Regions from separate parts of the Homo sapiens genome. Here region 1 is linked to region 2. Evidence: fine-mapped expression QTL. A gene starts in region 2. The other region holds a variant in brackets. All regions are shown on one strand. Distances are from middle to middle. Region 1 has its middle 42 kb from the start of LONRF2. Region 2 holds the start of CHST10 (carbohydrate sulfotransferase 10).

The links. PIP is the estimated chance that this variant, and not a neighbour inherited with it, causes the effect. A credible set is the group of variants that fine-mapping cannot tell apart.
Region 1: its variant is the best candidate, but not a certain one, in a credible set for the expression of CHST10 in whole blood (INTERVAL, PIP 0.53).

What each region holds. Positions count from the first base shown.
Region 1 is chr2:100,361,611-100,366,980 of GRCh38, forward strand. No RefSeq gene overlaps it. Among named protein-coding and RNA genes, the nearest start is that of LONRF2, 42 kb to the left of the region's middle. The variant A/G (reference allele first, on the strand shown) is at 2,361.
Region 2 is chr2:100,415,071-100,420,452 of GRCh38, forward strand. It overlaps CHST10 (carbohydrate sulfotransferase 10), which reads right to left and starts at 2,598. Exons shown (of 7, transcript NM_004854.5): 1 at 2,304-2,598; 2 at 1-41. RefSeq lists silencers at 2,094-2,243, 2,254-2,703.

The sequences.
Region 1 (5,370 bases), 53 kb before region 2:
ATATGAATAATTACCTCAAATGAAGGCCAGGCATGGTGGCTCATGCCTGTAATCTCAGCACACTTTGGGAGGCCAAAGTGGGCAGATCACCTGAGGTCAGGAGTTCGAGACCAGCCTGGCCAACTTGGTGAAATCCCATCTCTACTAAAAATACAAAAAATTAGTTGGGTGTGGTGTCACGTGCCTGTAGTCCCAGCTACTCCAGAGGCCAAGGCAAGAGAATTGCTTAAACCTGGGAGGTGGAGGTTGCAGTGAGCCAAGATCATGCCACCGTACTACAGCCTGGGCAACAGAGTGAGATCCGTCTCAATAATAATAATAATAATAATAATAATTACCTCAAATGTAAATGGTCTAAGTAAACCAAAAGACAGAGATATTGGGGAAACCAGCCCCCCGATATTCAACGTGGGTCCTTTTCTATTTTCCCTAAGTGTCGGCCAATCTGAGAAATAAAGGGAAAGAGTACAAAAGAGAAATTTTAAAGCTGGGTGTTCAGGGGAGACATCACATATCGGCAGGTTCCGTGATGCCCCTCAAGCTGCAAAACCAGCAAGTTATTATTAGTGATTTTCAAAAGGGGAGGGAGTGTACAAATAGGGTGTGGGTCACAGAGATCACCTGCTTCACAAGGTAATAAAATATCCCAAGGCAAATGGAGGCAGGGCGAGATCACAGGAGCGGGGTGAAATTAAAATTGCTAATGAAGTTTTGGGCATGCATTGTCATTGATAACATTTTATCAGGAGACAGGGTTTGAGAGCAGACAACCAGTCTGACCAAAATTTATTAGGCGGGAATTTCCTCGTCCTAATAGGCCTGGGAGTGCTACGGGAGACTGGGGCTTATTTCATCCCTTATCTACAACTGTAAAAGACAGGCGTTCCCAGAGCAGCCATTTTAGAGACCTCCCTCTAGGAACGCATTCTCCTCAGGGATGTTCCTTGCTAAGAAAAATAATTCAGCAATATTTCTTCTATTTGCTTTTGAAAGAAGAGAAATATGGCTCTGTTTTGCCCAGCCCACAGGCAGCCAGACCTAATGGTTATCTCCCTTGTTCCCTGAACATCGCTGTTATCCTGTTCTTTTTTCAAGGTGCCCAGATTTCAAATTGTTTAAACAATTTGTGCAGTTAACGCAATCATCACAGGGTCCTGAGGCGACATTCATCCTCAGTTTACGAAGATGACGGGATTAAGAGATTAAAGACTGGCATAGGAAACCACAAGAGTATTGATTGGGGAAGTGATAAATGTCCATGAAATCTTCACAATTTATGTTCTTCTGCCATGGCTTCAGCTGGCCCCTCCTTTTGGGGTCCCTGACTTCCTGCAACATCTCTCCCTTTCTTTTTATATAAATGTGCCATGGCGATGAAGGCTTGTTCGTTCTCTCGATTTTGATGCAAGATTCTTTGACTGGTCTGGCACACTAAAAACAAGCCAATTAAACAGAGAAACATAATTCCAAAATTTACTACAGTGGAGCCCCCAATAGACTTAATCCAAGTTGTGGGGTTTAGTCCAGAAAGATTTTCTGCTGCCTGATCTAATGCCTCAGCTCCAGGCACAATGGATAAGTGAGCTTGAGAGGCTGCAAAAATTTGTTTCTTTAATTCAGTTATGTCCAATGATAAATTATCTTCCCTACCCAGAAGGTGTCCTTTGACCATTTCCCATGAAGGATCAGTCTCATTATAGGAATACGGGGTGATACAGAAATCCGAAGTATTCCAATCGCACTGCATTTGCACGCGATGTTCGAGACTCACCACCCTATCTCCAAGCCAAATAACAGACTGTCTTAAATCATTAATTTGATTAGCCAATTTTTGATCAATGCCTTGTTGAGAATTCCACATTTAGGTGGAATTGGCTTGCCAATCATTAACAAAATGAGCCATTTGAATAGAGTGATGTAACGCCATTCCGGCAGTGGTGGCCATTGCAGTGACTGTAATTAGGCCCATGATCACAGAGATTAAAGTGAAAACAAATCTCTTAGATCTTTTTAGAATTTGCTGTAACACTTCATTAATTAAATGTATTGAGGGGGAGGATTCCCAAGCTCTGGGCAAAGTTACTGGAATCCAGATTCCTTCTCGAGCTCGAACCAACATTACACTTTTTCTGGAGTCAAAATGGGAGTTAATACAAGTGTATAAATGACAATTAATGCATTGGATAGTTTGATTGTTCATCAAAATTTTGATATTTCTTGCTAACAGCATGTAAGGAGGCTTAACACAACTCTGTATGGGAACAGTCAGGTTGGAGGTAAGTAAAGCAGAATGTCTGGATCTACGCTGATACTGAGAGAGGGGGACGGTAGTGGAGACAACAGACAGAATAGTTTCCCCT[A/G]CCCATACTCACAGTCCAGACATGGCAATAGCCAATTTTCAAAGTTCTGGGTGTTCTGGGCTCAGAATGGGGAGTATCATACGAGGCCTCAGTCGGGGGGTAATGCCTTTATCTTCCCATTTTAAGGGAAAGAATGAGCTGAACCTCCTATGCAAAGTAGAATGATGATTCTCATTCTCCCAATAAGAAATAAAATAAGTAGCCTCCAGGCATTCCCTTCCACCAGAGGAGCAATTGTTTTTTAAATAGGCCTTTGGTGTCCAGTCTATTACTAAACCATATGAGTCATTTTTTAATATTACTGCATGTGAGATAACACAGTCTTCCCAAATTAAACTTTTAGATGGGCCCTCAAAATTTTTAGGGCATGGTTTTCCTGCAGGTTTATATTGAAAGTATGGGGTATCTCCAATTACTCCCCCTTTCATTTGTTTTAAAGGAGAAAGGGAGAGGCCAGAGACCAAATGTCCCGGTTCCTCTGTAGCTGATCTCTCTGGAAGATAAGCAGCCCAGATTTGAGTTTCTAGATGGATACAATCAGGTGCATGTCCGAGGCACAGAGGAGGATATTTATAACCCATGGTAACATTAAATGCAGTGCCTTCTTCTCCTGGTTGAGCAGGGCAATGGTCATCTATAGCTCCAGGCATCCACACACTATTATTAGTGTAGATTTCTGCAGGAGCATCTATCCAGGTAAGAGGTCGAATAAGTGGAGGAAAAGGCACATAAGAATAATTATGTGTAGCAGGTAAATCAGTGTGAGAGGAAACTGGTGAGACAGAAAGTATAAGGAGGAGAATCATTAAATAAAACCTACTGTAAGCGAGATTCAGTGCTGAAGGAGGAAGAGAACAGAGGGATGTTATTTTCAGGCTAATAGAAATAGTGAGATTTTTAGGTTTGTAAGGAGAAAAAGAAAGGTAATCAGGAGAAGTGGGATTAGTTAGATGGGTCTCCATTGCCATTAGGGAGGGTTGAATCAGACCCATTGTGATTTGGTGTGCCTGCTTCTGAGGAGTCGGCACAGATCTCACCACGTCTGAGGGCGGTCTCTGACACAGACGTCTTTTCCCTGTGGTTTTCATTGTCAGTATTCACCCGAAGCTTGAGTCTCCTGGTGGGTACCCAGACAGGGGATTGATGATCTCCTGGTGAAATACAAGCATATCCTCTTCCCCACGTTATAATTGTGCCAGGTTCCCAAGTATTACTTTGGGAGTTTTTCCATAACACTGGCTTGCCTTCGTTTAGGGAGAATTTTTTGCCTGTATAATGGCGTTTGGCTGCAGTTAGATTATTATTCTTAGGGACATTTAAAAAATTTAAAGTAAACAATGCCAAATGTAATTGGGAGTGGGGGGTAGTTAAATTATGTTTTTGTTGGTCAGACTATTTGGACAATTGGGCTTTTAAAGTGTGATTGGCCCGTTCCACCACAGCCTGTCCCTGAGGATTGTAAGGGATTCCAGTAATATGGGAAATTCCCCACTGTTGCATAAATAAATCAAAAGCCTTACTAACACATCCAGGGGCGTTGTCTGTCTTAATTTGATATGAAAGCCCCATAACTGCAAAGCAAGAATACAGATGTTTTGTAACATGGGCCGTGCCTTCCCCTGTTTGGCAAGTAGCCCAGTTAAAACCTGAGAAGGTGTCTACAGAAACATGCACATATGACAGTCTGCCAAAGGAGCTCACATGAGTCACAACCATTTGCCATAAAGCATTAGGAATTAGGCCTCTGGGATTAACGCCAGGTTCCTGGTTTAGAAGTACAAAGACTTGACACTGAAGGCAGCTGTGAACAATAAACTTAGCCTGTTTCCAGGTAAGAGCAAATTTATCTTTTAATCCAGCAGCATTGACATGAGTGAGATTATGGAACTCCTGAGCTTCTTGGGTTGCAAAAGAGACCAAACAGTCAACTTTATGGTTACTGGCAGACATGGGTCCTGGTAAACCGGTCCCTCCATTCGGGGTCCCTGACTTCCTACAACACAGAAACTAACCAAATATGTATTAAAAAAAACTAATTATCTGCTGTTTAAAATTCAGTGACATTAGGCAGGTTGGCTGAGGCAGAAGAATCACTTCAAACCCGGAGGTGGAAGTTGCAGTGAGCTGAGACCATGCCACTGCACTCCAGCCTGGGCAACAGAGCGAGATTCCATCTCAAAAAAATAAATACATAAAAAAAATGATACAGAAAGATATACCATGCAAACATGAATTTTAAAATTAAAAGTCTAATAGCTAAAATTGTTAAAAATTTAAATTTATTGTGATATCTATTTCATTCCTGACATTAAGTTAAAATTATTAAAGTGCATTTATTTATTTATTTATTTATTTATTTATTTATTTTTTGAGACGGAGTCTCGCTCTGTCACCCTGGCTGTAGTGATCTCTGCTCACTGCAAGCTCCGCCTCTCGGGTTCATGCCATTCTCCTGCCTCAGCCTTCCAAGTAGCTGGGACTTCAGGCGCCCACCACCACGCCCAGCCAACATCTAAGGCCAGGCATGGTGGCTCACACCTGTAATCCCAGCACTTTGGGAGGCTGAGACAAGTGGATCGCCTGAGCTCAGGAGATTGAGACCAGCCTGACCAACATGGTGAAACCCTGTCTCTACTAAAAACACAAAAATTAGCCAGGCATCATGGTGGACACCTGTAACCCCAGCTATTTGGGAGGCTGAGGCAGGAGAGTCTCTTGAACCTGGAAGGCAGAGGTTGCAGGGAGGCGGAGGTTGCAGGGAGCTGAGGTTGCGCCAGTGTACTCCAGCCTGGGTGACAGAGTCAGACTCCATCTCAAAAAAAAAAAGTTTTTTAAAAAGTAGGCTATATTAATATCTGATCAAGTAGAAGAAGAGCAAAAATATTCCAAAGAAAAAAGACAAAAATAAAGATGAGAGAAAAATAAAATTGAAAATAAGACACTAATAGAGAAAATCAATGAAACAAAAAGCTTTGAAAAAAATTAATATTAATAAAACTTTAGCAAGACT
Region 2 (5,382 bases):
CTGTGTTTCCCCTGAACTGAGGTTCTTGGTTCCTCTTGTCACTGGATAGGAAAATTAAAAAAAAAAAAGCATTATTAAAAGTTACAAGATCAACTTACTTAATACAACTTGGTTTATACTTAGGAAGGAAATAGTGAACCATTTTGATGATTCAAATATATTTGGCAGAATGGGTCTCTTACAAAGGCAGGTTATATTTGGATTTCTTGGTAAATGAATATTCTAAATGTACCAAAACCACTAGCTGTTTAAAAGACTCTTCCATGTAACTTAGTGTGAAAAATGAAACATTTTTTGTAGCAAAAATAATCAAATCCAATTATGCCTGTTTCGTATGTTTGAAATAGTTATAGGATTCCTATACAAGATGATCAATTCTTCCAATGCAAAATGTTCTCTGGATTTTCGTACTCCTTACACCTTTAGCACCTGGAAAATTTTAGCCAAATGCCATATCATAAAAAACCAGAAACAAGCCAAAGTCATGGAATTAGATCATGGATTTAGGAGATCTACCAAAATAAACATACAACTCATTTAACATACAATAAAGCCCAAGCTGACTGGGACACATGCAGCACGGTCTCTCTCTGCCTCCCTTTACTCTAAGAACTCAATGCTAAAATTAAAAGCAATTTCCTATTATGTTGATTGAAAGATTAAGCTTTATATACAGTCATTCATCACTTAACAATAGGGATACCTTCTGAGAAATGTATCGTTAGGCGATGTTCTTCTGCAAACATCAGAGCGTTCTTACATAAACCTAGATAGTACAGCTAACCACACACCTAGGCTATATGGTACAGCTGACCACACACCTAGGCTATATGGAATCATCTATTGCTCCCGGGCTACTAACTTGTACTGCTGTTACTGTACTGAATACTGTAAGCATCTGTAATACAATGGTAAGTATTTGTGTATCTAAAATTAGAAAAGGTAGAGTAAAAATAAGGTAGTATAGTCTTATGGGACCACTGTTGTATATGTGGTCCATCATTGTTAGAAACATCATGTACGGCATTTGATGGTCCTCACATCCAGGTTATCCAGAAGTGTATGAAAAGAAAATGAACTCCTGGGTTTCTGCAATCTCTAAGGTCCTGCAACCACCTCTCTCCCCTGTTTCTATTCCTGGCTCTCTCTCACCTTTTTATTGTATGAACTCCTCAAACACTGAAAAATGATCCGAATATAACTGCAAGTTGCCTGTGATGTTTACAAATTCTTTCCTTTCTTTGTTCAGTTTTGCAAACACTCCAATTTTCATTTCAGCGAAGAAGAGAATTTTCTGCTCAGGTATTTCTTTGAGATTCTATTCTTCAGGGTCAAGAGCAATTCTGAATTCTGAATTCCAATTCTGAGCCAAGATGGACTAAGCTCTTAATTATAATGGGGAGGGAAGGGAAAAGACCACTTCTCTCTTTGTGTCTTTTCATTTTAACCCAGTCACTGAAAAGAGTGAAGGAGGAGGTGGTTGGTTATCAGAGAGCCAGAGCTAAACTGAGCTGCCTAATTTTAACAGCGTCTGAGACATTTCTCACTCTGGCACTCTAAGCAATGCAATAACCCAACTCCTCATGGCCCAAAGCCCCAGACTCTGGTTTTCAGACAAAACAACAACAACAACAACAACAACAAAAACCCACCGTTATGACAGTCCTGCCGCTGAGCTAACCAGAACCTGGCTGCACTACTTTCCATTCACTGCCCAACCCTTTCCTGCCTTGCAGACTTGGAAAGCAAAAATGACATTTTGGAAAACCTGGTTCACCTTCCCAGCCAGAAGTGCAGAACTGCATGCCTCAACCTCCAACTTCGGACAGGCCTCCTGACAGCGAAGATCAGAGGCTCAGGGCACCCCGGGGCCCCTCAGGCAGGGAACGTGCATTCCCACCCCTGACTCCCCTCGCACCGAAGCTGCACATGCTCCTTCTTCCCTGCCTTCCTCTGCATGCTCCTTGGACCCAAGCTGAACCCTTTCTTCCTCTCTCCATCTACAATTACAAACGCAAATTCTCAGCCAAGGATGAAAGAAGTAAATTGTAGGCTCGCACAATATCAATAATTCCGCGGGTCACAGCATCCCGCACAAGGACGCCTTCTTATTGCATAATTAACGCGAGGAAGGCTCTTCCCGCTACTCCCGCGAACTAGGGAGGTCTTCAAGTCGCCAAAACACACCGGGATGTGGCTCGCCAGGACAAAACCCGCGGGTTCCCCGGTTTTTCCGTGCGCCCCGCGGCGGGGAGAGGGGCCCAGGCGCTGAAACCCACCCGCCTGCGCGTCCCCGAGCTCACCCTACTGGAGCGGCGCTCGTCCGGGTCCTTAGGCTCCTCCCCTGGCCCTGGGGGCGCCGCGCGGGTCGGGCTTCGCCGGGCCTGTGGGCGAAGCGCGCGGGGTCCTGGGAGCTCGGGAGGCCCGCCCCACCTTGCCCCGAGGCCTCCGCGCCGCGGCCCGTCGGGTCCCGGGATGTGGCGGCGGCGGCAGCGGAAGTAAGGAAGACGCCCGGCGCGCTAGACCGGCTTTGGGGGCCAGAACGCCGGCACCGCCTCACGCGGCCCCCTCGCGCCTATCCGGCCGTGCGCGCCGCCTGCCCGCGCGCGTCCCCGCCGCCGTCCCCGGCCGTGCGCGTTCCAGCGGGTCGCGGGGAGTGGGGAGGGGCGCGGCCGCGGGACCCCAGGCCCGGATCCCGAGTCTCCCTTTCTGCCGCTGCAAAAGCGTTCTTTCTGACCGAGACCTGCGGCCGGAACAAGTCCCGCTGGGCCTCCATCCAGAAAACAGGTTCGCTTTTTGAGAAAGAAAAAAAATCCCAAACTTGGAAAAAGGCAAAAAACCAAACCAAAACAACAACAAAGTCACACACACACACAAAACCACCTTGGAAAAATACAAAAAATAGATAAGTAAATTTCTTAAATCCCCAACTTGGAAAAAGGCCACTTGCTTGCGTTAAGGGTAACTTCTAGCATTTTCTAATAAGCCTACTTAGTAAAAGGGGGACGTTCTATTCTTTAAAGAACCCCCTTGGCTGTCCGGGTTGGGGATGTAACTGTTGTCTAGGTACAGTGGATTAACGAAGGACAATGATAACGGCCTGACCAGTTTACAGACCTGAAGAATTGTAACTTCTTAACCTGCAGAAATGGATAAGGCCTGAGTCAACCTCAAAGGTATTGGGATTTTATTGCCCCAAAGAAGATAAACTAGTTTTATTTTTATACAACCTACATGTTTGTTAACTACCCGACTATATCTGTGTCTATTTAGCAAACAAGTAAAATAGATACGTGTATGTATACACACACACACACACACACACACAATTTTTCAAAGCTTTCAAGGAACAAGCGTTTTTGTTTTTGTTTTTTTTCTTTTTTATTGGTTCCCTCCTTAATGAGTTAATAATATTGAGGGAGCTGGCTGTTTGAGTATTTCACTTCTAGCCCCATTACTAATCATGGTTTAAAGGTTCTGTCCCTCATGCAGAAGACGTTTACTGAGCCCTTTTTTGGGGCCCTGTGGTTGAGATGAGACATTGGGTTTCCCTTTGAGGATTTGAATCGATACACGTGCACGGCAGAAAAGAAGTAAGTAAATGTGAAGCTTGGATGTGATGCAGCATATTATGCAGGATTTAAGGATCAAGGCTCTGGGAATCAGACCACGTGGATTCAGAGCCTTAGTCACTGCATATGACTGTTGACCTTGTCACACTCTCATCTCTCTGTGTCCCAGTCTTCTCATCTACAGAATGTGGTACTAGGCCGGGCGTGGTGGCTCACGCCTGTAATCCCAACATTTTGAGAGGCGGAGGTAGGTGGATCACCTGAGGTCGGGAGTTCGAGACCAGCATGACCAACATGGAGAAACCCTGTCTCTAATAAAACTACAAAAAAAATTAGCCAGGAGTGGGGGCACGTGCCTGTAATCCCAGCTGCTCGGGAGACTGAGGCAGGAGAATTGCTTGAACCCAGGAGGCGGAGGTTGCGGTGAGTCGAGATCTCGCCACTGCACTCCAGCCTGGGCAACAAGAGTGAAACTCCTTCAAAAAAAAAAAAAAAAGTGTGGTACTAAAGAATATTGTAGAGGATGCATTTAAAATACAAAGCACAGTCATCCCGCAGTAGTAAACACTGCAACAAACACACACTATTGTCACTGTTATTACTGCATTCCCAAGATACTGTTCAAAACTTTAAAAGATGGAGTTTGTTCTAGAGGCTTACACATTGACAACTAAGGTAACTGAGGTTTTTTGGTTTTTTTTGTTGGAGTTTTTCAAAATAGTTCCTCTTTTTTTCCTATAAATGAATGTCTAGGAAAATATTAGTATTTAGTCTTTTTTTTTTTTTTGAGACGGAATCTCGCTCTGTCGCCCAGGTTGGAGTGCAGTGGTGCCATCCCAGCTCACTGCAACCTCTGCCTCCTGGGTTCAAGTGATTCTCCTGTCTCAGTCTCTCAAGTAGCTGGAATTACAGGTGCGTGCCACCACACCCGGCTAATTTTTGTATTTTTAGTAGAGACGGGGTTTCACCATGTTAGCCAGGCTGGTCTCAAACTCCTGACCTCAAGTTATCCACCCGCCTCAGCCTCCCAAAGTGCTGGGATTACACGTGTGAGCCAAATATTTAGTCTTTGTAGCAGGAGGATTGTTTCTAAAATAGCAGTTCGCAAAGAGTGATCTCCAAAAAGTGGATCTTTAGGAGTCTCCAAGATCCTTTCAGAGGATCTGCAATGACAAAACTGTTTTCATAGTTGAACTGGGACATTATTTGTCCTCTTTACAATGTAGACATTTGCTCTGATTGTGCAAAAGTAAGCACAAATCCCAGCAGTGGGACAACACCAAATCAGTAGTAACTGCATCCTTCACCACCATGCACTTGCAGTAAAAACAAACACAAAGTGTCACTGAAGAATGTCCCCCGTGAAGCAGTCATGTCCCTCATGACAGGGTGGGAAATGCACAGAAACAATCCTGCTGCATCCCAAGGATGATGGTTGCTGAAGGCCGTGCCATTGTGCAATGGCCTGCAATGCACAAGCTGCAGCTCTTTTTTATGGAACGCCAGTTTTACTTGAAAGCAGAACTGACAGACAAACTGCAGTTACCCAGATTTGGGCATTTGGCAGACATTTCCTCCAAAATGAATGACATGGGCCTGTCACTTCAAGAAAAACAAATGATAGTGTTTGTTGTCTGTGATAACATTCAAGCTTTCAAGTGAAAAATCAGACTTTTGCAAAACCTGTATCCATCACTGTAAGTTTGACAGCTTCCCAATATTTAAAGATTTTTCTGATGAGATCAGAAGTAGTACTAACAACTAGTTGTAAAAAAATATTGTATAGTGATCAACCAGTTGTAGTGTAATA